Regions from separate parts of the Homo sapiens genome. Here region 1 is linked to region 2. The links come from fine-mapping of genetic effects on gene expression. A gene starts in region 2. The other region holds a variant in brackets. All regions are shown on one strand. Distances are between the middles of the regions.

Region 1 (2,731 bases), 72 kb after region 2:
CTGTCCTCAAGCAATCCTCCCTTGGACTCCCAAAGTGCTGGGATTACAGGCGTGAGCCACCACGCCCGGCCCCCTATGTCACACTTGATGCTCCCATGGAACTCTCTAGTCCTTTCCCTTCTCTCCTATGCCTTACCACCACCACTAACTCTTATTCAGGCCTCAGGTTCTCTCCTCTAATATTGTCCCAGCTCTCTGAACTATTCATTCTGTTAAAAAAAAAAAAAAAAAAAAGAGTAAGGCTGGGTGTGGCGGCTCACGCCTGTAGTCCTAGCACTTTGGGAGGCTGAGGAAGGCGGATTGCCTGAGCTCAGGAGTTCAACACCAGCCTGGGCAACATACAGAAACCCCATCTCTACAAAAAATACAGAAATTAGCCAGACGTGCTGGTGCATGCCTGTAGCCCCAAGTGGGAAGGGGGAGAGAGCCAGGGGGCTGAGGCTGGAGGATCGCTTGAGCCTGGGAGGTCAAGGCTGCAGTGAGCAGAGATTGCACCACTGCACTCCAGCCTGGGTGACAGAGTGAGACCCCGACTCTTAAAAATATTTTTTAAAAAATGTTTCCTGGCTGGGCACATTGGCTCATGCCTGTAATCTCAGAACCCTGGGAGGCCAAGGCCGGTGGATCACCTGAGGTCAGGAGTTGGAGACCAGCCTGGCCAACATGGTGAAACCCTGTCTCTATTAAAGATACAAAAATTAGCCAAGCAAGGTGGTATGCACCTGTAATCCCAGCTACTCAGGAGGCTGAGGCACGAGAATCACCTGAACCCCGGGGGCGGATGTTGCGGTGAGCCAAGATCGTGCCACTGCACTCCAGCCTGGGCGACAGAACAAGACTCTGTCTCAAAAATAATAAAATAATAAAATAAATATGTTTCTTAAAAGCAAAATAAATAAAATTAAAAAAATAAGAGAGGAAGAGCAGAGGGTGAAAGTGCCTCCTACTCCAGGAAGCCCTCCCTGGTCACCTTCAAAGGGACCAGAGCTCACCTACTTCTGTTAGAGTCCTGAGCACTTAATTTTTAAATATATTTTATTCTAAAGGCAGTCCATGCCTGTTGTAACTAACCACAAGAATCAAACAAACTGAACGTTTGTGTACCTGCTGGTGCAGCTGTATTTTCTTCTTGATGACACATAGTGCCTTTTGGGCCCTGAGCACTTGTCCATTGGGGGACCTCTCCCCTCTTTGAGCACGGGGCCCACCCCCTTTGAGCACAGGGACCCCTGCAATTGCTGTGAGTAGGCTTCCAGCTAGCCCCTCCCAGAAACAGCTGTGTCCCCCTTGGCCCTTCCTGTCTGGGCCACAGGCTATTTTTAGCACTGAATCCGGAACCCACA[T/C]AGCAGCAGCTGCTTGTGGCCGGAGCGCAAGAACAACAAACCATCCAGGTGGGTTGTGTCAGGCTGCAGAGGGAGCGGCCTGGGCCTGGCCCTCTGAACCTGGTAGCAGAATCTGGACTTTCCAGGAATAAGCTGGTCTCTGGGTGGGATGGGGAGGGAGGAAGCAGAATGGGGCAGAGGATGGGTTGCACTAGCTAGGCCAGGATAGGGGAAGGGCCTGTGCAAAGGCCCTGAGGTAACTGGGGGAGAGGAAGGGAGCAGAGGAGAGAAGGTGAAGGAGGCAAGGAAGAAGAGTTGCTTGTGACGGGAGGGAGAAGCGGGGCCAGGCCAGGCAGAGGTGTGTCGGCCGTGGTCTCTGTCCTAATCAGATGAGCCGGGGAGGAGAGCGGTGGCCTGCAGTGGCTTGCATTAACAGCGAGGGAGTGGAAGGGTTAGGATGGCTGAAGCCACAGGCCTTAGTGAATGCTTGGTAGTGGGGGTGAAGGTAGGAGGGGTCCTGGCCTACCCAGCTTGGGGGACAGTGAGCCCCCACTGGGTGGAGACATGGGTGAATGGCCAGTAAGGGAGGGAGACCACTCGTTGAGTCAGGCAGGTGAGCTTGGGGTGCTGTGGGGTGGAAGCCCTCCCTGGCCTCTAGCCCAGTCCTCCCAGCTCCTTCCCTTCCGTGGCCCTGGTCATTCCTGCTTCATGCAGAAGGGCTGCAGTTGTCCACACAATGGCCCCTCTAGGCCTGGTTTCTGCTGCGGAGCTGGCACAGGCAGGGGCTTGGTAAACAGGGAAAAACAGGGAAACTTGTGAAGACAGAGACCTGGACTCCAGGGCTGGAAATGCAGCCTCGGGGCTGGCATTGTGACCTGAGCACTCCCTTCCCTCTCTGGCTCTGTGTCCCTCTCTGTGAGATGCGGGTCAGAAGGGTCCATGTGTAGAGTCTCTTTCAGCTCCAAGGTTGTACTCTGATCTATAATGGGGGTATCAGAGATTTCTGGGTGGAAGCCCCTTCCTGTAACAAACACAGCTGGCCTCCCCATCCAAGGCCCATCTCTGCTATGAATAAGTGAATGCTTATGAGCAAGAATGCACCAACAGAGGAAGCTGGAGGGCCCCTGCCAGTCCTCTCTGCCGGATCTGTTCCTCGCTGTCTCCTCTCAGCCAGGAGCCTTCATGGGCCTATGGTCAGGAACAGCCAGAGAGGCCTGCAGGGCTGGGGAGGGAGTCGCTGTGGGTGCCTTTTTCCTGCAGGAGCTCAGCTTCTGGCCAGGGGAGGAGACACTGAATCCCATACCAAGCAGGGAGTGGAAATGCACTGGTGAGTGGTCCAGGGCAGCCGTGGGGCAGGAGAGCTCCTGATGAGGACAGGAGGAGGAGGGGATGTGCTAGGCAGGGACAAA
Region 2 (3,008 bases):
TGTGGAGTCTTCTTGAATAAGCTGTGAAACATTTCCCCACCCGCTTCCCTTTCTTGGCCCAGGCTTCCTGACCACAGCCTCACCTTTGAGCAGCTCAGAGCCCTGCCTGCCAGGATGCGAGCCACTGCCTGGATCGTGGCTCTGCAGGGCCACCCATGATGGAACAGGTCGCCTGGTGAGGTGGTGAGGCCCTTCATCATTTCAGGGGGTGTACAGCAGTACTGGGTAACCCCGAAAATCAGGGATGAGACTGAAGGATCCCTTCCAGAATGTGGACACAACCCCTCCTTTGAGTCTCACCTCCTTTCCTTCTTTTTTTTGAGATGGAGTCTCGCTCTGTCACCCAGGCTGGAGTGCAATGGAACAATCTCGGCTCACTGCAACCTCCGCCTCCCGGGTTCAAGTGATTCTCCTGCTTCAGCCTCCTGAGTAGCTGGGCTTACAGGTGTGTGCCACCACACCTGGCTAATTTTTGTATTTTTAGTAGAGACAGGGTTTCACCATGTTGGTCAGGCTGCTCTCCAACTCCTGACCTCGTGATCCACCTGCCTCGGCCTCCCAAAGTGCTGGGATTACAGGCATGAGCCACTGCGCCCGGCCTCTCGCCTCCTTTCTTTCAAGTCTGAGGTGGCTAGCCTGGAGGGGTCCCCAGGGGCTTGTTGGGCACTGACGAGGGGACACCCTGGGGGCCCAGTACTCCACTCAGACACCTCCCACAGCCTTCTGACAGCATCCTTCCCACAGCTGACCAGCTAGAGGACCTCCTGACCCCTCCACTTGTCTGCTGGTGTGGAAAAGCCTGGACCCTCCCTCTTGGAGCCTCAGTTTCCCTATCTGTAAACTTCGGTCTATCCCAAGCTGAAGAACTGGCCAGTCCCTGCCATATGCCTCACTTTCCCCTGGGACACATTTTAATATCCCTTTCCTGGCCAGGTGCAATGGCTTCCCCATGTAATCCCAGCACTTTGGGAGGCCAAGGTGGGCAGATCACTTGAGGTCAGGAGTTCGAGACCAGCCTGGCCAACATGGTGAAACCCCATCTCTACTAAAAATACAAAAATTAGCCAGGCATGGTGGCGCACGTCTGTGGTCCCAGCTACTTGGGAGGCTGAGGTAGCAGAATCGTTTGAACCTGGGAGGCGGAGGTTGCAGTGAGTGGAGATCACACCACTGCACTCCTGCCTGGGAGACAGAGTGAGACTGTGTCTCAAAAAATAATAATAATAAAAAATAAAATAATATCCCTTTCCTCACAGGGGCTATTGTGTCATCTTCTAGAAGGATCCGTTGAGGCTCTGAGGGGTGGGGGAACTTGCTTGTGGGTAGGACCACCTGTCAGAGGTCAGAGGTCAGGCCACCAAGGAGACCCAGTGGGATGCGCCTTCCAAAGGTGGGGGTACGGATGGGACCCATGAAACCTGACTCCTCTCAGACTCTAGCCAAGTCTAAGACTTTGGACGGCCACCACCCAGAGGAGAAACTGAGACCCAGAGCGGCACGGGTTGGCCAGGGTCACCCAGCACCAGATAGGGACTTTGCCAGCCCCGGGGCAGGACCCTGTCTCCGGCCCTCGACCCCGCTGGGCCGTACCCTCCCCGTTCACCTCCCCCACCCGGGCCGCGGCTGCTAGGAGAGTTCAGAACAAAAGGCGGCGGGGGGCGGGGCCGAGGCGGGCCGGGGGTGGGGCGGAAGCTATAAGGGGCGGCGGCCCGGAGCGGCCCAGCAAGCCCAGCAGCCCCGGGGCGGATGGCTCCGGCCGCCTGGCTCCGCAGCGCGGCCGCGCGCGCCCTCCTGCCCCCGATGCTGCTGCTGCTGCTCCAGCCGCCGCCGCTGCTGGCCCGGGCTCTGCCGCCGGTGAGTGCCCGCCACTCGCCGGCCGCTCCTCGCTGAGGGGGCGCCGGGCACGCGGGCTGGGCCCAGCGGCGGATCCGGACCGAAGGGGGCGCCCCGGGTGGCCTCCAGCGCCCGGTACCCGAAACGCTTTCTGGTTCCCTCTAGGCGTGATAGACAGCGAGCTTGCAGTCCCTGGGGGTGTGAAGGGGAGCCGGCGCCGGCATCGTTCGGGCTGGTGGGACGGGACTCCACGCTGGACTCACGCTTGCTCCCAGCGTGGGGACCTGCCTCTCGCGCTCCAGCCGCGGGTGCTGGAGTGTGCGTTGAAGGAAGCAGCAGAGGGAGTGGTAACAGGGCCCCCTATTCATCGCAGGGACAAAGCCGAGCAGATCCCAGGCAGGTGTCAGCCTGCAGGTGTGTGGCCGCAGTTAGTACACCTCCAGGTGTGCGGTGGGATGAAGGATAAAGGGAGAAGGGAGGGCAGCGCTGTGCTGCGGGAAATGGGGTCTAAGCCTGGAGATGTCCCCCGCGGGCACCTGCCGGCAGCAGTTTTGGGAGGCTTGGAGCCAGGAGAACATGAGTATGAAATAGTATGAGTGCAGTGTGTGTGTGACTGAGAGGTGGCTGTCAGAAAGAAGCGGGGAGAGAAAGGAAAGGGAGAAAATGTGTGCTCAGGAGAGGAGAAGAAAGCCCAGGTAAGAGAGGACAGCAGAGTGAGGAGAGGAGGGACTGTCATGGAGTGTGTGTGACAGCTTGCATGTGTCCCAAAAGCTGCCCCTTCCCTGGGGCGCTTCCAGGCACCAGTCACAGGGCCTGGGGCCAGAGCCTGGGCCACTCCACTCCACAGCGGAGGCATCCAGACAGCTCGGGCAGGGAAGGGAGCAGGAGGGTGTGACAGGCAGGAGTCTCAGGACTGGCCTGGTGAGGAGGCAGGCCTGGCCAGGCTGGGACCCTCTGTCCAGCCACTCTGGCTCTGCTCAGGGCAGCCTTGTCCTGTGCTGGCTATGGGAGCAGAAAGGGATGGGATGGGTGGGGTAGAGTGAATGGGGGGCATCTCAGTCTGGAGTCTTGCCTCCTTCCCAGCCCCTCTTGGTTCCTAGGACTTGGGACAGAGTCAGGAATCACTGTGGGTAGACATTGAACCACAGGTCTGGAAATTGGAGAGATCTGGGTTT

Evidence for each region. PIP is the estimated chance that this variant, and not a neighbour inherited with it, causes the effect.
Region 1: its variant is the best candidate, but not a certain one, in a credible set for the expression of MMP11 in whole blood (TOPMed, PIP 0.62).

What each region holds. Positions count from the first base shown.
Region 1 is chr22:23,843,279-23,846,009 of GRCh38, forward strand. No RefSeq gene overlaps it. Among named protein-coding and RNA genes, the nearest start is that of DERL3, 5.6 kb to the left of the region's middle. RefSeq lists an enhancer at 1,104-1,597. The variant T/C (reference allele first, on the strand shown) is at 1,344.
Region 2 is chr22:23,771,125-23,774,132 of GRCh38, forward strand. MMP11 (matrix metallopeptidase 11) reads left to right here and starts at 1,725. Exons shown (of 8, transcript NM_005940.5): 1 at 1,725-1,854. The coding sequence starts at 1,747. LOC107985577 (a long non-coding RNA gene) reads left to right here. Exons shown (of 3, transcript XR_007068022.1): 2 at 63-183; 3 at 745-1,253.